Linked DNA regions of Homo sapiens. The protein of the gene in region 6 purifies or fractionates together with the protein of the main gene of each other region. This does not show direct contact. Each region holds a gene or a part of one and is shown on either strand. Other genes may lie near its edges. The genes, in order: CSNK2A2, DDX51, IPO8, ZMYM3, BCKDHA, ZSCAN5A and MYH8.

Region 1 (3,500 bases), on a different chromosome or scaffold from region 6:
CTTCAAATCTAAGAAATAAGCAAAACGTAAATTGAAATTAGGAATATCCATATTCCACTGCTGTATATTCAGAAGAATGAATTGCTGACTCTAAAGCAATTCCAGAAAAATGTCTGAACTTTTGTGCTATGGCAGCATTTTTAGAATAAGTGTATGATTTTCTGTGGTGCTTTTTTTTTTTTAAAGGAACAGCATTCAGGTGTGTGTATAAATACCAGCATGTTCATTTAGGAGAGCATCGCATTGCTGCTTCATCATCCAAAGAGCTTTATAGGCTCTAGCTTTCCCCCTACTTTAAAGATTCTTGGCGTATGTTAGGAAACCCAGTATGTAAGCTGCTGCAGGTTATCTTTACAAATGGGAGACCTAGGCACAAAGAAACTTACCTAATGTCATTATGTTGAATGACCATTAGCCAGAACTCCTGTTTCCTATTTCTTCATATCTCTTACTGTTCATTTTAGCACTGGATTGTAGGATCTGAACGTTGAGCACAGAAACAGGTACCAGTGTCCTGGAATCAGACTTGGGAGGCCCCTAGTTAATGAAATGTTTCTTGTTTCTTCTTGATGTTGTTTGTTTTCACAGTGCAGCCTAAACCACTAGTGAAAATTAGACTCACTTCTTTATGTTTTTTAAAGCCCGGTGGCATTTCTATCCAGATTTTGTTCCTGTCTGAAGGATGGGGTAATATATCACTAATGGCATTATTGTGGTTTTGTTGTTTTGTGAATTAAAAGTATTACTTTTTAAAAAGAACAGGGTAACAAGGTCTTTAGCCAAAGTTGTGTTTCTTTATTCAAATAAGTTGAAGTTATGACTAATAGCTACTATTGTGGTGCTTGGTCATAGGAAATTAGGTCCTTAACAGACTACCAGCTCCTCATAACTTGGAAGAATCTAGAACAGCCTTCCTTTTTGTAAAAGCCTGCTGTATTTTAGCTGCAGGATTGTATTATGCACATAGTGACCAAGATAGAGGGTGGCTTTCTTGAGGACAAGTGGTCTTACTTTTGTAGTCAGTAACGTTTCGTATCAGTTCTTTGCAATATATGTGAGAATGGGTGGATGATGAGTGACTACAGAGGAATTTTATATCATTTAATTTGCATTAGTGGATTTCCAGGTATTGATCAAAAATGAGCTGCTAAAAAGTTTTAGGAATTTAGAAACTGGTGAGCAAAATTTTACTGTCTATCCCCAAGTGGTATTCTGTGGCTAAAATCTTAAAACTTTCCAATCAATAGAGAGGTTGTATCTTTTTTTGACAAATTGTTTTGAGGAGAAAAGAGAAAAAGGAGGAGGAAAATGGTAAGCGTTTATATGGCAGGGCAGAAAGCTACATTAGTGCCAAAAGTTTCATCTTTTGATTTTGAAAAATCAGTTCTTCATTTCCTTTGTAGTACCTCTTAGAAAAGTGTACACAGAAGTAAAAGTGGCCACCTTTGACAACTTTTAGCATTTTATGAATACTGCCTGTGTGTGTAGATTTCAGTACTTCTTGGGGTCCTTGGGATCTTTCAAATTAAACTGCTATTTCTTGAATAAAAGTTAAGAGCAACACTATTTTTAAAAAACAGCATTTTGAACCAGTGCAAAATGACTTGGAAATTCCCATATAAGGCTTCCTCTTAGAGGTCTTATTTTATAAACAGATTGACTATCCATTTTCCCCTAGATATTAATTATTTAGCTTTAAACAAAGGGTGGTGGTATTAAAATTTTGCTCTTTAAGCATGTTTAGCATACTTGCAGATATTTTTTAAGTTCTGTGTTGTCAGTAGGTAGTGTTAAAAGGATGGGCATTGGTTATACATCTTTGTTAGTAGCTTCATCGTGAGCTGGTGATCTTTATATTATATCAGAATGGTGCTTTCCTCTTTATTTCCTCTTTATTTCTCCTGTGGTAGGTTTTTTACCCTCCTAAATTTAGGCATGTGTATGAAGACATCTTCCTGAAACAACACATTAGTGGTATTTATCTAAGTTTTTGGTACATTCTGATTTTCACTAATGTCTCATGGTATAAAAGTAGTGCAAACAGTATCACTAAAGTATTGCTAACATTAAAAATAATGTTAAAAATTATATGTGAACTAGGCCGTTTCCAGCATTGTACTGGGGAGTCACAGATTAAGAGTGTAGTTAACCTGTGTCAAACAGAATCGCAGAATGCGGGCACTTAGAAACCTAGAAACCATTAGAACCCAGGCCCTTTTTACAAATCAACCAAGACCCAGAGAAAGGATGTATATGCTCAGCGTCATGTAGTCAGGGGGTGGAAGCACTCGGTGTAGGACCTTGTGTACCTGTCATGAAGTCTTGGTAGATGCGAGGAGCATAATTAGGACATTAGCTGGATGTTTGACTTTGTGATGTCCTGATCTGTACTGGAAGAATTGAGGAACACTCACCAGGAGTCAAATGAAGTTAATTCGTTTCTAATGATTTTTGGAGTTATTTTTCTCAAAGGAAGTGTTTGACTTTGGTAAGTTGCTAGTTGAAGTGTGGAATCCAAGAGTCCTCGAGGGCTATAGGGACCCAGGCAGGCGTTCTCTATGATTAGTATCCACAGCAGCATGTTTAATGCTTCAATGAAATGCTGCTTTATTCTCTTGAAGCCTCAGTAAATAGTGTTTTTATGGTTTTTTTTTTTTTTAACCCATAGAGTTCCTCCAAGTCTCAGCATGATCACTTGGCAGATTTCGGGATTAATAGTTTAATAGTTTTATCCCTTTAATATATGAGTTTATTTGAGAGCAAACCACATGTGAAAAGAATATCTTGATATAGTGTGCCCATTTTCATGTATAAAGCAGGGCTCCAGATAGTTTCTAGAGTTTAATTTCAGGATCTACCATCTCATCATCAGGGTGGTGTAGTGTAGGAAGTGCTGTAAATGAGAGGGCAGAAGGCTTGAGTTCCAGAACTAGTTTCTTCATTGATACCCACTTGACTGTTTTCTCATCTATGAAATAAGCATACATTTCCTGCTTAAGTCACAGGATTGTTAGGAAAGTCAGATAAACTATAGATAGATGGGTAGAGAGATTGATTGTCATGTTTTAGTAATCTACAAAATGCTTTTCTTTCCTGAGAGAGTATGGCCTAGGAAGTGGTCTGCCTGGTTTCAGGTGTTAGCTCCAACTGTAGACGCTCTGTGACGTCAAACAGTTACTTAAGTTCTCTGTGCCTTGGTGTCCTTCCTCAAGTAAAACTGTTAATAGTGCTCATCTAAGACGGTTAAATGTGCTTAAAACAGTGCCTGGCCTGAGAGATCAATAAAGTATAGTAGTAATAACAATATTACATTTGGGTCATGCGAGTGATGTTAGAGGCAGAACCAATAGTAGAAAGGGTTGTAGTGTTCTCCTAATGAGATTCAAAGGGTCTGCTCTATGCCTTGCCTTTAAAAAAAAATTGTGTTAAAATACATGTAACATAGGCTAGGCGCGGTGCCTCACGCCTGTAATCCCAGCCCTTTGGTAGGCCGAGGTGGG
Region 2 (2,613 bases), on a different chromosome or scaffold from region 6:
CCGAGTGTGCCCACGGTGCCCGCTCCTCCCACCTCCCCGAGTGTGCCCACGGTGCCCGCTCCTCCCACCTCCCCGAGTGTGCCCACGGTGCCCGCTCCTCCCACCTCCCGAGTGTGCCCCGGTGCCCGCTCCTCCCACCTCCCGAGTGTGCCCACGGTGCCCGCTCCTCCCACCTCCCCGAGTGTGCCCACGGTGCCCGCTACCTCCCACCTCCCGAGTGTGCCCACGGTGCCCGCTCCTCCCACCTCCCGAGTGTGCCCACGGTGCCCGCTCCTCCCACCTCCCCGAGTGTGCCCACGGTGCCCGCTCCTCCCACCTCCCGAGTGTGTGGCCAGGCCCACATCTTATGTCTGCGAACCCAGCAGCACTGAGCCACTATCAATCCCCGATAAATGGCAATCATCGTGAAGCAGCCTTGTGGTCTGGGGTAAATACCAAGGTTCTTGGTCTCATGGCCAAGGAGATCGAGGTCGCAGACAGACACACACACACACAGTGAGTTTGGAGCAGAAGTTTAATAAGCAAAAAGGAAGAAGAGCTCTCCGTTGCAGAGGGGGCCTGAGCGGGTTGCTAAGTTGTAGTAAAGATGTCAAGGTTTCTTTTTTTTCTGTCGCCAGGCTGCAGTGCAGTGGGCTGATCTTGGCCCACTGCAACCTCCACCTCCCGGGCAAGTGATTCTCCTGCCTCAGCCTCTTGAGTAGTTGGGACTCCAGGCACACGCCACCACGCTCAGCTAAGTTTTGTATTTTTAGTAGAGATGGGGTTTCACCATGTTGGCCAGGATGGTCTCGATCTCCTGACCTCAGGTGATGCGCCTGCCTCAGCCTCCCAAAGTGCTGGGATTACAGGTGTGAGCCACCGTGCCCGGCCTGTCAAGGTTTTTACAAATGGGCTAGTGACGAGGGGTTAGAGGAGGGATGTCTTGTCCTCCCAGGGCCCAGGGTTTTAGCTGGGACAAGGTGTGCTATTTGTATAGAGAGTTTCTGTCAGACTCAGTCTGTGCTGCTCTGTGACACTTTTCTGCGAGGGTCTCTGGGTCTGCTCCCAGACATCTTCTTGGGGTTACAGGCACCCCTCAGTCTGCTTTTAGCTTCCCTTAGTGCACCTAAGGGGACGGGAATGTGCTTATTAGGGTCCACTGTTTTACTGGGGCCCATTGTGGAAGTGTGAAGTTTGGTGATCACCCAGGAGACACCCCCCGCACTCCTGTGCCCGAGCTGTCTCATCTGTGATTCACAGTCTGCTCTTTCTGGCTGCTTGTCGTGAGAAGTGATTTTGAACCCCGAGGTTAGAAAGGGAGCTATTTTTGAGCTGCTTTTTGTTAAAAGGCAAATTTTCTGCTGGGGACTGGCTTTACCCCGTCTACCTAAATCATTTCTTTCTGCCTCCTGTAACAGTCGCCTTTTGTGTTCTGCTGGCATTTGTTTGAACACAGTCCACAGGTTCAGTGGTTGCATCTCTAATCAGCTGCCAGTCCCCATCCCAGACATTCTTTGCATCTAAGCTGAGGTCTGAACTGAGTGGGGTGGGCTGGTGTTTCCATCCTCACAACTCCAGTGAGCCGGGTGTGGCCGTGGCCTGCGTCTCCCTGGCGGTTAGTGATGTTGGCATCATCCACCTTTTTCAAACAAAGCACTGGACTGAGAGAATTCACACACTGTATCCACCCAGTCCATGGTTTTTAGTAAAAGGTTTATAGAGGTGAGCAGCCATCACCACACACAACCTAAGAACATTTTCATCATCCCCAAAACAAACCCACACACTGGCCACTGTGTCCCCAGCCCCAACCCCCACCAACTCCCGGCCCCGGCACCCTTCAATCTCTGGCTGTGCCTGGGACACTCCCTATAGCCGGAGCCTTCCTTCAGTTAGCGTCAGGTTCCGGGTTCATCCACGGGGTGCCTATGCTGGTGCCTCACTCCTTTTTCTCTCCTGGTGTGGATTTCCCACGTTTTATTCTCCATTCATCAGCTGACGGACATGTGGTTTCTAGTTTTTGGCTACTGTGAACAGTGCTGCTGAGAGATTTGTGTACGTTTCTGTGTGGATGTAGGTTTCATTGATCTGGGGTGTACAAGGTGCATAGGAGAGGAAGTGCTGGGTCATGAGTGACTCTGTGTTTAACGCCCCAAGGCTTTGCCCAGCTGTCTCCACGTGACCTTCCCACCAGCAATATGTGAGGTGTCCACTGAACAGTCACAAGGTTCACAAATCTGGGGAGGAGAGCTTTTTTTTTGACGGAGTCTCACTCTGTTGCCCAGGCTGGAGTGCAGTGGCGCAGTCTCCGCTCACTGCAAGCTCCGCCTCCCGGGTTCACGCCATTCTCCTGCCTCAGCCTCCCGAGTAGCTGGGACTATAGGTGCCCGCCACCACGCCCGGCTAGTTGTTTTTTTTTTTTTTTTGTATTTTTAGTAGAGACGGGGTTTCACCATGTTAGCAATGATGGTCTCTATCTCCTGACCTTGTGATCCACCTGCCTCGGCCTCCCAAAGTGCTGGGATTACAGGCATTTGCCACCGCGCCCGGCAATTTTTTTTTTTGAGACGGAGTTTTGCTCTTGTTGCCCAGGCTGGAGTGCAGTGGCGCAATCTCAGCTCACTGCAACCTCCA
Region 3 (3,500 bases), on a different chromosome or scaffold from region 6:
ACCATAAAACAAATAATCTATATTAATGAGATTTAAAATAATTTATTTGATTAATAATTTTCTAAATATCCTCATTGGCTTGTTTTTATTCTGTAAATTTTCCATTTCCATTTTCTACTAGGTTACTGGTCTTATGTATCTGAGGATGGCCTCTGTACACTGTGTACATTATGCCTATTATGCATATGTGGCAAATATTTTCTCCCCCCGAATCATTTATGAGTCCTGTAACTGTAATTATACTGTTCTTTGTTGTATAAAATTGGCAAATTACTTACAAAGTAAAAAGTCACCCTCTTACGGCAGCAATTTCATTCTAGGGATTGTGAATAACTAGTAGGTTGTTAGCCACAATTTTTAAGCAATGTATGCCTGAAACACTTCATTCTTTGCTATAAAAATGCTTGCCCATTTATGCCTAAAGGATGAACAATATACACAGATACTCCACATATTACTTTTGCAAGGATAACATACAGGCTCACCCTGCTACTTCTCAATGATGAAAGCTGCTAGGATTGGGTGATAGGTGTTTCATTATTTTAATTTCTATCATTTCATGTATGTATGTTTGGGGATTTCTATCATAAGGAATAAACAAAAAAATTTTTAAAAGAACCTAGACCAATCTTGGGCAAATATCAAAACAGGAAGAAATGAAGAAAGAGTTTAGAAAAAAAAATATCAGAAGATGTGGGGAAGTAAAGACATACTTATCAGAGCTTGTGTAAAAAACTGATATTCATCCACACTATTGTCAAGGTCAAGTGGAGTACTGAACCCCTCAAGCGCGGTTTCTTCCAATACTTCTTCATCCCAGTCATCATCTTCCTCCTCCTCATCTTCACCTCTTCCATTATTTGACTGCATTGCTTGAGCAGTTACATTTGTCTCCTCTTCATCACTTGAAATCTCCTCTGTGAACCCATTAATTATTTAAAAGGAATCAAAACACATAAGGACAAAATATAAAACTTCACGACAAAAACCAAAGACTATAAAACTACACTCTGGAAAGGAAAAAATCTTCCACAAAATTTTAATAAAAATAAATCTTATCCCTGGTCTAAAGAGGAGAGTCAAAAAATAAAAATAAAAAATAAAATAAATAAACCTTATCTTTACTGTAGAGTTTGCTAAGTTGAGAATGTCCTTATCCTCCTCACTGAAAACAAGTTCCCTAAACCTGTTATCCAGATGAACATTACTACTGTTAGGCTATGCAAGTTCATTAATACAAGAATATTATTCAATTGCAGATTTCAAAATTACCTTTGTTTAAAAAAAAAGTGACTGTACGGTCAGTGCATGTGTTTTAAACAATGACTTCCTATTGAGAATTCAGTCCTCTTAATTAACTGAGTTGATTATAAAGTGCTTAGAAATGCCCAAATGAGATCATTTCTGCTAGTAGAAACAGTAAAAATACAGATCCAGCCATCCCACTTCAGGATATATATCTAAAATATTTTAAATCAATACGTAGAACAGATGTCAGCAGCCCTGTGTTCATCGCAGCATTATTCACAATAGCCAAGTTACAGAATCAACCTAAGTGTCCATCAACAACGGATGAATAAAGAAAATGTGGATTCTTTAAAATGAAACACTATTCAGCTTTTAAAAAGGTAATTCTGTCAATTCCAACAACACTGATGAACTTGGACATTATGATAAGTGAAATAAGCCAGGCACAGAAAGACACATACTGCCTGTTCTCACTTATACATAGAATCTAAAACAATCAAACTCATAGAAGTAGAGAATAGAATGGTGGTTACCAGAGGCTAGAGGTGGTGGGAATATGGGAATGTTGGTAAAAGGGTACAAAGTCTCAGGAAGAATTAGGTTTTTGTTTTGTTTTGTTTTGTTTTGGTATCTATTGTACAGCATGGTGAATACAGTTAATAGTATATGTACATTTCAAAATTGGCAAGATTGTAAATTTCAAATGTTCCCACCATTAAAAAGGGTATTTAAGGTGATGGATATATTAGTTTGATTTAATCATTCCGCATTATATTCACAAATCATAACATCACTTTGTACTCCATAAATATATAATTTGCTAATTTATAATAAAAAGAAATAGCAAAAATGTAAAGAAAAATAGCTACATGTCGCTTGAAAAGTTAAAAACTTGAACTACATTATGTATCACCATGGATTCTGTATCTATTTTCAGTGTCAATCTGTTCCTAGCAGTTAGATTGTAACTGAAATACTGGAACAGGAAGGCAGTAAATGCAGAACAAAAATCAAGATAAGAGAGAAATCCTGGAGTAAACCCAAACCAGGTAATATTAACCTAAAACTAGTTCTATTAGACACACCATATTGAAGCAGGTAGATTGAACTAGGTAGTTTTAGGAATAAGGCACTTAACCAGAGTTTGGACCAAATACACGAAAAAATGCATGGCAAATTATAACTATTAATACAAAAAGACTGAGAAATACCTCCACTAGTTAATCATTCCATACTTTAGTAGGAAGTACAAGAAAGTGTGGGATATTACCAGAAAATTTTCCCTCAAGCCATACAGTATAAGCCAATAAAGAGTTGCCAAAACAAGAAATTAGAGATCATAACATACTGGAAAAAATAAAAGAATTCTACAACTGTTGACACACAGTTAGCTAAAAACAAAACAAAACAAAACAAAAATCACACATGCAACACTTCTAATAAAGAAGCATTTCTTCAAAAGACCTACACAGATTTCAGAAAAACAAATTAGAAGCTGTATTTTGTGCTGTGGAGGGGAGAAAAAGGGTAGTTTATAATCTCTGGTATATGAACAAACTGGGATGATGCCAGTTAAAAGTGTTTTAAATCTATCCATGCTAAAATCACAGAATTTAGCATCAAAAATAGAGCTGTATGTTTACCAGGAAGAGTTCTGATTTTTCTCAGCTAACAAAGTATCTGTTTTTAACCAGGAGAGGAAAAAATCCACCTGGAATAGGAGAATGCTACTTCCTAGTCTCTAGCAAGTAGCTCCGCAATCTCATCATTAAACAAAACAAAGGTCTAATATTCAACTCTAACAATCTTATTCTGATTCTCAAGTATATCCACTTCATTTATGTACTTTACCTTAATTTATATTTAAATCACAAATATGGACGTCTCTCAAATGTAATTTTTGCTAATGAGTCACCTAAGAACCATTCCAGAAAAAGAAAAAAAAGACACTCTCTACTAATCTGTGGTACTAACACTTCAGCTCTTAATGTAATGATTCATTTAACTCATGGCTACTGCCTTGATGAGGCTGTTAGCACAAACAAGAAAGTTAGATACTAGATTGCTAACTTACAGTCAAGACCATTTGATTGTTATAAATGTGTTTCCTAATGTGTAACAGCATCTATTAGGCTCCATAAAAAAAACCGCTGAGTATATTAGGTGTCAGAAGGTGCATAAATCTAAATTTATATAGCATGATACAATTAATAGCAAGTCAACCAAGCCCAAAATATTTGTTATATGTGTAG
Region 4 (2,509 bases), on a different chromosome or scaffold from region 6:
AGGAATCCTCCCACCTTGGCCTCCCAAAGTACTGGGATTACAGACGCAAGCCACTGCACCCAGCCTCCCTGTAAACCTGAAGTGAGTTATTTATTCCTCTGTCCTCCCATAGCACTATTCATTTTATTCTGCCTGTATTATGACTAATTGTGTACTATTTGGTCTCCCCTATAGCCTGGGAGCCTGCTGGGGATTGGATCCTGGTCTAACCAGTCTTTTTGTATTTTTTGAAGCACGTAATCTAGGTCTTTAAACATAATAGGTCCTTAATACATAGCTAGTGAGTGAGTATTTTTTTTTCCTTAAGTGTTTGGAAACTTGTTATAAAAAAAAAACAAAAACAAAAACAAAAAAAACAAAAAAAACACCACATTCCCAGTAGATCCAAAGTAAGACAGTAAAGTAAGAACGATTCTCAAACACCTGACTTGTTTACACTTGGAGAGATTTGAAGTTATCCAGTGTTGCTCCTCTATATCCATCACCCAGAAAAGACAAAAGACAATTTTAACTCTTTATTTGAAACAAACAATTTCAGAGACAGAAGGTTAGTCGTGACAACAGCTTCTCACTACAACACAAGGGTGGGCATGGCTCACTGAAGGGACAGGCCAGGCGCCTCAGAACAATATATACAATTTAAACAGTGGCTAACTGGTGACAGTTATAAAAACACAAAAAGGAGCCTGGGAAACAGCAAAGTCAACAGGGAAAGAAGTGGGTACCCCCTTTGCCAGAAGCTAATTGTTTTCTGGGACCTCCAATGCAAGATGGGGAAGAGAGAAGATGTAGGCAGTGGCGGCAGGCCCTGCGCCCACAGCTCCTCGCCTGTCCTTTGACCACAGATCCCATCCTGCATGACTCAAGGTCCCATAGGCTTGGCCTAGCTCTTATGATAGGGGAACAATAGAGGGGAACCCAGCCTCAACCCAAGTCAGAAGGTAGTTTTTGCCTTGGGAGGTCTGTCCATTGAACTAAAGGGAGGCAGTTACAGAGGGGGCTAAGCATGTTGACACCATGGCTCATGGCAACCTAAGATGGCAGAGAGACAAACACAGAAACCAAGGGGACAGGAGTCTGCACAACAGGAGTCTGCTCCCCGTACTTAGTCATTCTCTGCCTCTGAGGAAAAAAAGGCATTTGGAAGATTTTAAAAACGGCAGCACCAAGGATTGGTGCTTGCCGAGGGGGTGAGGGATATGCGGTGGTGAGATGGTGCCAACAACCAATTATTTCATAGGAGGGGAAGAGTGTCTAAGCTCTGTGTTTTATGTAAATGGTCCCCTCATCGCTTTCATTGTTTATTTCTTACCTTTCAGATAAGACCTTTTGGCATGGTGCTGGGGAAGAGTAGAGAAGGGAGTGGGCACAGGGCAGAGAAGGCAGCTGGGTTTTTCCCTAGGTCATGCCTAGGAACAAGAGGCTCTACCTATGCGGGATGGGTCAGGAAACCCAAAGCCAACAGGATCACCAGAGCTATTAACACTCCACCCAGAGTCTGGACCCAGAAGGAGGGGTTTACTCTGAAGCATAAAGAAAACGGGCAAGCTGGCTTTTGCCCATCACTGGGAGACCAGCCCCTGAGTACAGAAGACCAGGGCCCCATGGTTGTCAAGTGGTACGGAAGAAGATAAAAGCCAGGGTTCCTAGAGAAGGCAGGGAATGGGTGAGCGGAAAGGAGCAGTCAGGGCCCTTCAGAATGAGTAGCATTGGTTCCTGGGCCTGTCACCCTGAGGGACATGGCCACAGGACAGACATTGATGTGAAAGATGGATATGGATGGCACACGAGCTCAGTCCAGGTCTTCCTCCCCAGGACGACCCAGTTCCTCATAAATCTCGCGCACAGCCAGGATGCGATTGAGCATGCTCTCCAACATGCTGCGGTCCATGGGGATCACAGAATACCAGAGAGGTGACTCGGCGATGCAGGACCGTTCAGGTTGCAGGTAGAACACATCGTTGCGAGTCCGGAGGCTTTCAGGACTGCAACATCGGGGGTGGGAGTGGGAGTGGGGGTGGCAGGACAGAAGATCAGTACCAAGGCAAAGTAGATCCCTCGGGTCCCCATGCTAACGCTTTTCCTGCCAACCCACCAACTCACCATTTTGAGAGATAGAATTCATAGAACTTGACAGGGCAGCGGAGGGGATTCATGCGGTTCTCACGCTGCTCTAAGATAGGGGCTTCATCTTCTCTCTTCCGTTTTCCAGGACCCGTGTCTATAGGGGAGGGAAATGATTCAGACTCATTAAGAACACAGGCTCCATGAGCCACATCCAAGAGCACAGTTCAGGGCACAGGGAGAAGGCGTCACGACACAAATTACAGTCTCATCAAGATGGAGAGGTGGAAGAAGAGGTCAGTCTCCCTCTCCCACGCCAACCCAACATCCTGTCGGGCTGTTGTTATGCAACCCTCCCCAGTTCCCACTGCCAAAGACTCTCTTTAAAATCTCCCCCAAGTTGCTATCTTGAAGAGGTGATCTCAGAAGTTATTCAAAAGACCTG
Region 5 (3,685 bases), about 15 Mb from region 6:
GATGGGAGGGAGGAGGGCCCAGAAGCTGGACAACTTAAGCCACTCCTTGGCCTCCCCCAGCCAGGGGCCTGGGCAGGAAAGATGGGGTGGTGGACTGTTTTTGCCTACTTTTTGTTTTTGAAAAACATGCACTCCCCACTCTGAGGCCTGGGGTTGTTTTTGCATCTGTGGGGCCCTGGAGTGGTGGGGAGCAGGGCTTGGCCACACCCTGACCTTCATCCTGGACGCTCCCCTGCACCCCTGCTGGGCAGGGCTAGCTCCACTGGGCTCCCCATCACTCTGCTGGACAGCAGGCTTCTCCCATTCTGTGAGAGAGCAGGAGACCATCTCTGGAGGACCCCCCCACCCCCATCCTGTCTGCTGAAGTTAACCTTCCAGCTTGCGCAAGCTTCCGGGGGAAGTAGGTATCTCAAGAGCCTTGACCTTATTTATCTAAGGTGGAGAAGCTGGGGGTGGCCTCAAATCACCCCCAAACTCCAGGAAACAAAGACCAGAGGTGGTAGAGAGCCAGGCGCAGAGATGCAGTTTATTCGTGACCTCTGCTGGCCACTCGCACCTGCGCAAGTTCCACAGGCTGACCTGCCATGTCCACCCCATGCCCAGAGGGGCTTCTAGTCCTGAATGTGCCCTCACCCAGCCCCTGGGAGAAGGCACTGTAACAACAGGTGAAGAGGGGGCTGACGGAGCCTCAGCAACTGCTGCAGATGCTGTCCCCTGACAATGTAACAGCCGGGAGGAGCAGGGGTGAAGAGTGGCAGCCGCCCTGGCCGCTGAGTATTTTAGAGGGAGCTGACTGGGGAAGACAGTGGTGTGCTGTCAGGTCCCCCTGCTCCCCTTAGAGTGGGGCTACCTCTCGGGGTAGCTGAGGATGGGTGGGGGTGGGCTGAGCAGGTCTCACTTATCGAAGTGATCCAGTGGGTAGTGCTCCCCGTAGGTCTGCAGGTGGCGGGCCAGAGACTCCTGCTGCTTGCGGAGCTGGGCGGGCATCTCCTGATACACGTCTGAGAAGAGTAGGTTGGGGTTGGGTTTGGGCTTCCGCTCGGCCTGCTCAAAGGCCTCCATCACCTGTGGGGACATGGGGCAGTGGGCAGGCTAGCCGGCCTCCCATGCAGGACCCTGCTTCCTCCTGCGGGGCCTTGGCAAGGAATTAACCACTCCAAGCCTTTGTGTTCCCACCTCGACAATGGAAATGATTATCCTAGCAGAAGTGTAATGAAAACCCTCAAATCCCAGCAGGGATCAGGTGCTATCCAAGTGTGTGGAATCATTTAAGGCTTTCAGCAGCCCTAAGAGGTAGACAGCTAAGCAATGAGGAAACTGAGGCACAGAGAAGGGCAGGGACAGGACACACGGTGCTGCCCTATGCCGGGTGCTGCCCTCACCACTGGGCTGCACGGGCCCTGGGTCCTAATGACCGGGCCAGGGAGGGTGGCACACTGACTCTGGGCAGGGCATGTACACTCCACCACGGTTTGCCACCTAATCCTCAAACCAGCTTTTTTTTTTTTTTAAGAGATAGTCTTGCTCTGTTGCCCAGGCTGGAGTGCAGTGGCGCCATCTCCAATCACTGCAAGTTCCACCTCCCGGGTTCAAGCGATTCTTCTGCCTCACCTTCCTGAGTAGCTGGGACTACAGGCACGCACCACCACGCCTGGCTAATTTTTTTTTTTGAGATGGAGTCTTGCTCTCGTTGCCCAGGCTGGAGTGCAATGGTACGATCTCAGCTCACTGCAACCTCTACCTCCCAGGTTCAAGCAATTCTCCTGCCTCGGCCTCCCAAGTAGCTGGGATTACAGGCACCCGGCACCATGCCCGGCTAATTTTTGTATTTTTATTAGAGACGAGGTTTCACCATGTTGGCCAGGCTGGTCTCAAACTCCCGACCTCAGGTGATCTGTCCGCCTTGGCCTCCCAAAGTGCTGGGATTACAGGCGTGAGCCACTGCGCCCAGCCCTAATTTTTGTATTTTTAGTAGAGACAGGGCTTGACCATGTTTGGCCAGGCTGTTCTCAAGCTCCTGACCTCAAGTGATCTGCCACCTCGGCCTCCCAAAGTGCTGGGATTACAGGTGTGAGCCACCATGCCCAGTCTCAAACCAGTTTCTGAAATGGGCACCACCAGCATCCCCTTTCAAAGACAAGGAAGTGGAGGGCAACATGCCAAGGACACAGAGCCAGGACACACATGGCCCCAGCAGCCTGGCTCCACAGGCCACATCTGAGACATCACTGGGGTTATCCCTGAGCCTCCCAGTTCGGTGTTCCACAAATCCTTCCCAAGCTCTGCAGGCCGCAGCAGCCCCCAGCACACCCTCCCGGGCGGGGCACCCTCACCTTCCTGCGGGACTGCTTCCTCCAGGCCTTCTCCTGCTCCTCATCCCACCAGCCTTGGCTCAGCAGATAGTGCCGCAGCCGGGAGATGGGGTGGTCCTGTTTATCCCAGTAATTGACCTCATCCACCGAGCGGTACGCTGAACTGTCGTCACTGGTGCTGTGGTGCCCGATCCTGCACAGGGGCAAGGGGCCCCAGGTCAGTGTGGGCTCCCTGGAGTGGGGGTCAGGAGGGAGGATGGGGGATGAACTAGGGAAGGAGGAGTGGAAACGGAATAAAGGCAAGGGGGAGATGCAACATCAGGTGATAAGGCCATGTTTTGGAGACAGTGATCGATATGAGGAAGATGCTACGGTGGCTGTCAGTGCTGTGGGGGTGCTGACGGGGGGAGCGGCAGGCACCTGTAGGTCATGGCCTCGATGAGGAAGGGCTGGTTCTCTGCCACAGCCCGCCGTCGGGCCTCCTTTGTGGCGTTGTATACGGCAAACACATCATTACCATCCACGCGGATTGACATGATGCCATACCCGGGGCCTCGTGCTGCTGTGGGGACACAGAGAAGGCAGGTCAGGCCAGGGCTGAGATAAGGAACATGCACGAGGCCAAGGGGACGAGCAGGGAGAGGACAGAGAGCAAGGCTGAGTGCTCAGGACCTCAACTCCTGTGGCTGACCAAGTGCCAGACGCCACAGGACACAGGACGAGAACCAGGAAGGAGGGTAGGGGTGGCAGGAAGGTGGCAGGATTGGGGAGGGAAGGAGATGATCCCAGCGGGGTGGGGAGCAGCCAGCAGAGCCCATACCAATGCCATCGCCGCGATACTGCTCAGAGGTGGGCGTGGAGATGGCGTAGCCATTGTTCCGGCAGAAGAAGATGATGGGGCACTCAAGTGTGGCAGCGAAGTTGAAGCCGGCATGGGCGTCCCCCTCACTGGCTGCCCCCTCGCCGAAGTAACAGATGACGACCCTGTTGGCATTGGCCCGCTTGGCTGCGTACGCCGCCCCCACCGCTGCAGGGGATGAGAGGGTGGTGAGCAGGGGCGGAGACTCACATGCACTCACACTCATTCACACTCACATGACCCACGGCTCAAGCGTGGCTCAGGCCAGCAGTCACCAGGCTTCAAGGGGAAAGGAAACACCTCAGCTCCTGATGCCCCCCAGCATCTGCCCACCCAGGTCTCCTCTTGCTCAGCTGAAAGCAACTCCACCCTTCCAACTGCTCAGGCTGAAGAGTCCAGTATCATCTCCAAGCCAAACTTCCCGCCATTCTCCACATCTACTCCACCTTCAGAACCTAACCCCTCTTACCTCCTCCTCTGCACCACCCTGGTCAAGCCCAAGTTACTGAGCAGC
Region 6 (3,500 bases):
TCACTTGTACTTCGGAGTTCAAGACCAGCCTGGGCAACATATCAAAATTCCATCTCTACAAAAACCACAAAAATTAGCCAAGTTGGTGGCGTGCTCCTGTAGTCTCGGCTGCTCGGGAGGCTTAGATGGGAGGATTGCTTGAGCCTGGAAGGTCGCGGCTGCAGTGAGCGGTGATTATGCCACTGAACCTCAGCCTGCGTGACAGAGGGAGACGCCATCTCAAAAAAAAAAAAAAAGAAAGAAAGAAAAAAGAAAACGAAAACTCTACAGGATACCCAATAAAAGCTGAGTTTCAGATAAATAAATAATTTAGAACATGCTGATACTAAAGAAAATTGTTTATCTGAAACTCAAATTTCATCAGGCATTATGTATTTTATATGGCCACCCTCCTTGGACAACTGTACTTTACAGCAAAACAGTGGGTAACCCCATGTCAATCAGGAAACTCAGTTTTCCGTTATACAATATTGAAAACTAATAAGATGATCGTTTATTGGAAGAACAGCAACACAAACCAAAATAAACCTATAAGAAAACAATGGACATAATGAAACAGAAAACAAAGCTCAGTGGGGAGGACACATATTTACTCAAACATCCTGGCAATTCATATCTAGGGCACTCCCTCTGTGTGTCAGACGCCCTTGCATGTGTCAAATGTCATCTGATAACATTGATGAAAAATATCATTCACTTCTTCTTGGTGCAGAAGGCATAGACCGGATTATGCAATCACTGAGAAGTAGCTTCTGGATGTGTTTTCTGGTGGCGTCTTAACAATTTCAGCCGACTGAAGGCTCTTGGACACTTGGAACATTTGTAGGGTTTCTCTCCGGAGTGGATGCGCTGGTGCTCCTTCAGGCTCCCCCTGTAGGTGAAAACTTTCTTGCAGTCTTTACATTCGAAGGGCTTCTCCCCTGTGTGGCTTCTCTTGTGACACTTCAAGTAGGACTTCTGGGTGAACTGCTTCTGGCAGACGTCACACGTGTAGGGCCTCTCGCCAGTGTGGGTTCGCTGGTGAAATTGGAGGCTAATAAGCTGCATGAAGCGCTTCCCACAGAGATTACATTGAAAGAGTCTCTCGCCTGTGTGTGATCTCTTGTGGATGACTAGCTTGGAATTACACGTAAACCTCTTCTCGCACACGTCACATGCAAAGGGCGGCAGTGCCTTGGCTTCTTGGCCATCCGGGTGACTGACTGGGCTCGCAGGGCCTGGGGAATGAATTGAATTCATCCCAGCTTGTCCCGGGGATTCTCTGTTGCCCACAGGTGTGGCTTCTCCTTGAGGCTCTTCTTGGGAAATGGAGGAGGCATCTGGTTTGCTTCTTTTGGGACTGCTCAGATTCAGAGCGTCTCCTCTGTTCCCGCTGTGAGTCGAAGCTTCTCTCTCCACAACGCAGGCAGAAGGTGTGTCAGCATCCACATTTTCCACAGAGGCTATTTTTGGGGGGTCCTTCCCCTCCTTTGCTCTCACCAGATCTGCTGGAAGAAGGGATTCCACACACACAGTTAATAAAGCGCATTTTCAATACACCAAACTCATTGCAACCAAACACTGATGTTGGCTGACAACTTCCGCTCAAGCTCAAGCCTAAGACATTGGACTGTAGGTCTCTGGAAAGTAGAGGATGGGGAGGCTTTGACAGCTGAGTGCCAACTCCCCCAGGGGATGATAATGCTGGGCCCCCAGCCCCGCACCCCAGAAGAGAGGGACTAACCCCTGTGGATCCAAGTCTTCATACTCACTGGGACTCTTTGGAAGCTGAGGCTCTGGGGATGTCAGTCCTGGGTTCTCTTCCCTGTTTTCCTTCAGATCCTTCTCCAAGGTCTGCTTGGGTCTCAGAGACTTTGGGTCACCTGTTACGTCAATACTCTTGTGTAGCAGAAAGTCCTCTCCCTGAAGAGGAAAAACCAAGAGTAATGACTGCTGTGTCCAAACTGGTGGAAGCAGGGACACATCTGTCCCCTTCTGATTGGATGCAACAACTCTTCTAATGACACAGGTGTGGAAATACGTGCAGACTTCCCCTGGACCACCCCATCACCCCACGTAAACATCACCATCTCATTTCTGTGTCTGTCCCTAATCTGCACCCTCCATATTCCAAATCAGCTCCTGTGCCTGGTGGTTTTCACTGTTTGGTTCTCTGAGCATATTTCTCCCCGCCGTGCCAACGTCTCCCTGCACCTGACACTGGAAGGAGCATGACTCTAGTCGAGGCCCCTCAGCTGTGGCACCACTGGCATTGGGGCTGCATCACCCTGCTGGAGGGGGCGCTCCTGTGCAGAGCAGAGACCCCACCTCCACCCTCTAGATGCTATTAACACCCCACCATCCCCTACAATGACACACAAAAGCATCTCCAGACATGGCCATGTGTCCGGAAAGGCAGAATCACCCCAGTTGAGAAACACTCCTCAAATTAAGAAATTGACAATCTGTAGAAAATGGTTTCCTTGCTGAATTATTACATTAAATGTCTTTGAGGAAACTGGCTACGGGGAAGGAATCTTCATTCATCTGTGCAAACTGCCTCCCTCATTTCACTGAGATCATTTCTTATGCCCCACCCTAAATGCTAAAAGCTCTCATGGTGGAGAGAAAAGTAGATGAGGCTTCCCTCTCTGTGATGGCTCAGGAATGAATGTTTGGGGATGTATCATGTCCATGGGGAATGGCTCTAATCTTGTCCTGTGTCAAATCTCTCAATCAGTCCAGCGGCCACACGATTTCCTCCTGTTCCTTCTCCCACCTCTGCCCAGACACCAAGGCCTCACACACTCACCTGCCTCCTGGACAATGCAGGGACCCTGGGCAGGATCTGCAGCTCTCGGTGGGCCTGGCCTTCCCCTGGACGCATCTGGTTCACCGAGGAGGCCCGTTGGCTGGACACGTCTTTCAGATCATCTCTGACACTGGAGGGGGCTTCAGCCATCTCGATATCTGAGTCCTGCACAATATATTCCTTTCCGTGGAAGGTGACCACAGACTGTAGAGAGAAAAAAGACAATCAGACTCACCATGAGAACCTGAAAGTAGCTCTCATATTCCCTGGGTCCTGCCATAATGCTCACACTTTACTGTAATTAATGTTCAAATCTGCCTTCCCAATAGAGAGTCAGCTCTGTGGACACAGCAATCCTGTCTGAATTTTTTCCTCTCTAGACTCCAGCACCTGCCTGCGCCTGGAATATTCTAGTTAAGTACATAAACATGGGTCCTTTAGATGAAATAGTCTCTAAACCAAAGAGAAGACAAGGAGAAATATTCTGGGTGAATCCAACTCAATTGGCCGATGGCAGCTCACCTTGTATTAGAACTTAGGGGCTCATTTGGGGACCTGGGGGCAGATCCCTGCATCTGATACCAACCACTTTCCCTGCTTCAGGATGGGACTCCTGGGCCCCCCTTCAGTTCACTCTAATGCCTCCTTCCCTACATTCCATCAGGCCTAATATTTCACCAATGTCTTTCTTTCATGTTGGCCTCACACA
Region 7 (3,500 bases), on a different chromosome or scaffold from region 6:
TCCTAATAAGTGAAAAACAGAAAGGCCTTAAGTGTTCTGAAGAGGATTTGAAGATCCCAGGAGATGAACTGGGAGATTGTACTGGTGACAGGAACAGAAGATGACATATGCCTGTCATTTGAATGCATCTGATTATGGTTAGGTCATTTGCTTAGGGTGAGAGAGAATTATCAGGAGACATAGATTCTTGTTCTATTTCTACCATTAACTGGTTACTGTGTCATGTGTGAGTCACTAATGTCTGTCATTTGTGGAGCAGTTTCCATATGCTCTATCAGGACTTGACATCTGTTATTTCATTTGATCTTCACAGTAACTCAGTGAGGTGGGTAGTTTCATTCTTATTTTGAAGAAGGAACAGAGGTTCTGAGAGGTTAAGTAATTTGCTTAAAATCAGGCAGCTAGTAAATGACAAAACTAAGACTCAACCTCAGGCCTGTCTGGTGCCCAAGTCTGTTCACTTTCTTTCATATCATACTGTAATGCCTAGGCATCTGTTTGTTCTTCTACATAACATTTTCTTAAAAATAATATGTTCTATGTGTATTTAATTCAGTTACCTTTGTGCGGTCAGCTGTATAATTTGTTAAGAGAAAAAAAGGATCGTTTAACAAGGTGTTTGGGAAATGGAAGACAGGTACTTTCCCTGCTTCATCTGGGAGGCGAATGTGGACCCGTTTACCTTCAGGATTCCTTGGGTGTTCCTGTAGTTCCTTAAACTCTCTGCAGCTAAGCGATTGGCATGGTTCAGCTGGATTTCCATTTCATTCAGATCTCCTTCCATTTTCTTCTTGACTCTCAGAGCATCATTTCTGCTTCTAATCTCTGCATCCAGCGTGCTCTGCATTGTCTCCACGACTCTAGTGTGGTTTCTCTTCAGCTGGTCAATTTCCTCATCCTTTTCTGCGATTTTTCTATCAACTTCAGACTTGACTTGGTTTAACTCAAGCTGGATACGCAGAATCTTTCCTTCTTCATGTTCAAGAGATGCCTTAACAAAACAGTGATCAATTAATAATGGAGAAGAACCTGAGTATTTGGAGTATATTCCCTCGTGAGCCAAACTCTTGTCAATATCAGTTTGTCTAATTTTACAAAGTATAATACAGTAGTTCTGGGAATCTTCTAGGTAAATCATTATTTTGTTTATTTAGTGACAGATTATATAGGGCAGCTCTGCAATAAAGGTGCATTGTGCTATACAAATATTGTTCATATTAATACTAATAAAATTATATAATTAAATTCATGTATAGTAAATATAAATTCTCAATCTGTTTTAGAAATTAAAATGTTCTTGTGTGATATACTAGCCCCTGACCTAGAAACTATCAGTTTTAAAATGTTAATTTTTTTTCCGATTACATAATAAATGTTCATTGTATAATGTGGAGGCAATACATAAAACCAAAAGAAAACCTAGCTGTTGTTCCCCCAGTAAAGAGAAAAACATTTTAATATGGTGTATTTTTTCTAGTCTTTTTTCCTACTTCTATATATTTTTACATAATCAAAATTATATTGTATATGCAAATTTGTGTCTTTAAAATTACTGTCTACCGTAAAATATTTTTCCAAAATAATCATATTTCATGGCTATATAAAATTTCATCACATGACTGTTCTGTGATTTGCTTACTTTTGTTCTTAGATTGCACATCTTTGCCTTAAAGCTTTACTCCATTTGACATCTTTTGGGTGATAAAATCTTAGAAATAGAATTGATAGGTCAGAGTATTTACATTTTTAAGGATTTTGATAACTATTGCCAAGTTGTCCTTCATAAAGATCCTGTGAGTTTAAATTATCACTAGCCCCACTTTTTTTTAACTGATGTTTGTCTTTGTTTTTCCATAACATAATACAAGGTAATATGTACCTCTGCTTCCTCTAAAGCAGCCTGAATTTCACATTTCTCTTGTTCTACTTGCTTCTTTATTTTCTCCAATTCATGAATTTGCTTTCCTCCCTCTGCAATCTGCTCAGTGAGGTCAGAAATCTCCTCTGTGGTTGAACAGACAGGAGAGAAATGGTCAGAAAGATGGCAACATGGAAAGGTCCTCCCAGGGATATATGGAGTAGGGAGGACTGTGAGGACTCACGTTGCAAGTTCTTATTTTCTCTTCTTAGCGTTTCGAGTTGATCCAGGGATTCCTCATAGACATTCTTCACCTTGAACAGCTCAGTGCTAAGAGAACGTGACTCCTTCTGGGAGGCCTCAAGTTCAGCCTGAGTTTCCTCATACTTCTGCTTCCATTCTGATAGGACCTGAAAAGCAATAAATCATGAGTTGATCCAAGGAGAAAGGAAGACCGAGTAAAACACTCTTAAAGTTTAAGCAGTCTGGGCCACCTTGTCAAAGTTCCTTTGCTTCTTATCAAGGGCTGCACAGGCTGCATTAGACCTTTCCACATCAAGCATGAGGTCTTCAACTTCATTCTGGAGCCGCTGCTTCGTCTTCTCAAGGGAAGCACATTTGGCGTTCACAGCTTCTACATGTTCCTCAGCTTCTTGCAGGCGCTGGGCCAACTTTTTCCTGAAAAGTTAGCCAGGCAGTCAGGAGAATGGCCAAGACCAGAAGCAAAGTGATAACCTCCTTGGTCCCTTTTCACAGTCCTATTTCTTTTCTTTTCTTTTGTTTCTTTTTTTGAGAGACGGAGTCTCGCTCTGTCGCCCATGCTGGAGTGCAGTGGTGCAATCTCGGTCACTGCGACCTCCCGGGTTCAAGCGATTCTCCTGCCTCAGTTTCCCAAGTAGCTGGGATTACAGATGTGCACCACCATGCCCAGCTAATTTTTGTATATATGTATATTTTTTTTTAAATAGAGACAGGGTTTCACCATATGTTGGCCAAGCTGGTCTTGAACTCCTGACCTCAGGTGATCCACCCGCCTTGGCCTCCCAAAGTGCTGGGATTACAGGTGTGAGCCACTGTGCCTGGCCACGGTCCTGTTTCTATACTGGCAAATGGCATATGATTTTCAAAACGGTGGCAGCCAGAACTGCTTTCTAGATTGGTAAACTGTATGGAAAGATCCAAAGTGGTGAAGAGTTGGAAACAAGTCCTGGGAATATTATAGAATTCTAAGAGGCTGCTGTTAGTGCTGCCATTGTATGCGCCTTACTACCTAAGTAACTCAGGATTTTCAAGACTTCTGATTGAGTATGACTGTGGAAAATTATTAGCCAGGACAATCTTGTTGTTTGACTTATATATCCATTCTCACTCCAATATGGATTTGAGGTTAACTAGATATTTTACTGGCCAGAAATATACTGAGCATATTCATTTGCTTTCTCAGACTTTTCATTCCATTTTATGTGTTTTTTTCCTAGAGAATAGCCAGTTTCTTCTAATCATTATAGTTGGACAATCTCTCCTGGGAAAGAAACTGATACATAAATCAGGACAATTCGTGCAGTTTAAACAAAGGCAGGTTTTTTTTCCCTCCTGAATTCTCTACATTCTCAGTTCATTTTCAGTTGTGTGCCAAGTACAC

Evidence for each region.
Region 1: the proteins of ZSCAN5A (region 6) and CSNK2A2 purify together in Homo sapiens (affinity purification with mass spectrometry; 2 studies listed by BioGRID and IntAct, with this or other methods). This does not show direct contact.
Region 2: the proteins of ZSCAN5A (region 6) and DDX51 purify together in Homo sapiens (co-immunoprecipitation; one large-scale study listed by IntAct). This does not show direct contact.
Region 3: the proteins of ZSCAN5A (region 6) and IPO8 purify together in Homo sapiens (affinity purification with mass spectrometry; 3 studies listed by BioGRID and IntAct, with this or other methods). This does not show direct contact.
Region 4: the proteins of ZSCAN5A (region 6) and ZMYM3 purify together in Homo sapiens (co-immunoprecipitation; 2 studies listed by BioGRID and IntAct, with this or other methods). This does not show direct contact.
Region 5: the proteins of ZSCAN5A (region 6) and BCKDHA purify together in Homo sapiens (affinity purification with mass spectrometry; one large-scale study listed by BioGRID and IntAct). This does not show direct contact.
Region 7: the proteins of ZSCAN5A (region 6) and MYH8 purify together in Homo sapiens (affinity purification with mass spectrometry; one large-scale study listed by BioGRID and IntAct). This does not show direct contact.

What each region holds. Positions count from the first base shown.
Region 1 is NC_000016.10:58,191,607-58,195,106, reverse strand, and holds part of CSNK2A2 (casein kinase II subunit alpha'), read left to right. Parts: intron 1-3,500.
Region 2 is NC_000012.12:132,136,094-132,138,706, forward strand, and holds the end of DDX51 (ATP-dependent RNA helicase DDX51), read right to left. Parts: 3' UTR 501-2,613; downstream 1-500. UniProt on the Homo sapiens protein: ATP-binding RNA helicase involved in the biogenesis of 60S ribosomal subunits.
Region 3 is NC_000012.12:30,633,370-30,636,869, forward strand, and holds part of IPO8 (importin-8), read right to left. Parts: intron 918-3,500; coding exon 714-917; intron 1-713. UniProt on the Homo sapiens protein: Involved in nuclear protein import, either by acting as autonomous nuclear transport receptor or as an adapter-like protein in association with the importin-beta subunit KPNB1.
Region 4 is NC_000023.11:71,239,124-71,241,632, forward strand, and holds the end of ZMYM3 (zinc finger MYM-type protein 3), read right to left. Parts: intron 2,222-2,509; coding exon 2,104-2,221; intron 1,986-2,103; coding exon 1,793-1,985; 3' UTR 501-1,792; downstream 1-500. UniProt on the Homo sapiens protein: Plays a role in the regulation of cell morphology and cytoskeletal organization.
Region 5 is NC_000019.10:41,421,818-41,425,502, reverse strand, and holds the end of BCKDHA (2-oxoisovalerate dehydrogenase subunit alpha, mitochondrial isoform 1 precursor), read right to left. Parts: intron 3,340-3,685; coding exon 3,133-3,339; intron 2,875-3,132; coding exon 2,733-2,874; intron 2,506-2,732; coding exon 2,334-2,505; intron 1,066-2,333; coding exon 895-1,065; 3' UTR 501-894; downstream 1-500. UniProt on the Homo sapiens protein: Together with BCKDHB forms the heterotetrameric E1 subunit of the mitochondrial branched-chain alpha-ketoacid dehydrogenase (BCKD) complex.
Region 6 is NC_000019.10:56,220,840-56,224,339, forward strand, and holds the end of ZSCAN5A (zinc finger and SCAN domain-containing protein 5A), read right to left. Parts: intron 2,996-3,500; coding exon 2,792-2,995; intron 1,903-2,791; coding exon 1,752-1,902; intron 1,488-1,751; coding exon 736-1,487; 3' UTR 464-735; downstream 1-463.
Region 7 is NC_000017.11:10,394,451-10,397,950, forward strand, and holds part of MYH8 (myosin-8), read right to left. Parts: intron 2,537-3,500; coding exon 2,353-2,536; intron 2,269-2,352; coding exon 2,103-2,268; intron 2,005-2,102; coding exon 1,880-2,004; intron 992-1,879; coding exon 683-991; intron 3-682; coding exon 1-2. UniProt on the Homo sapiens protein: Muscle contraction.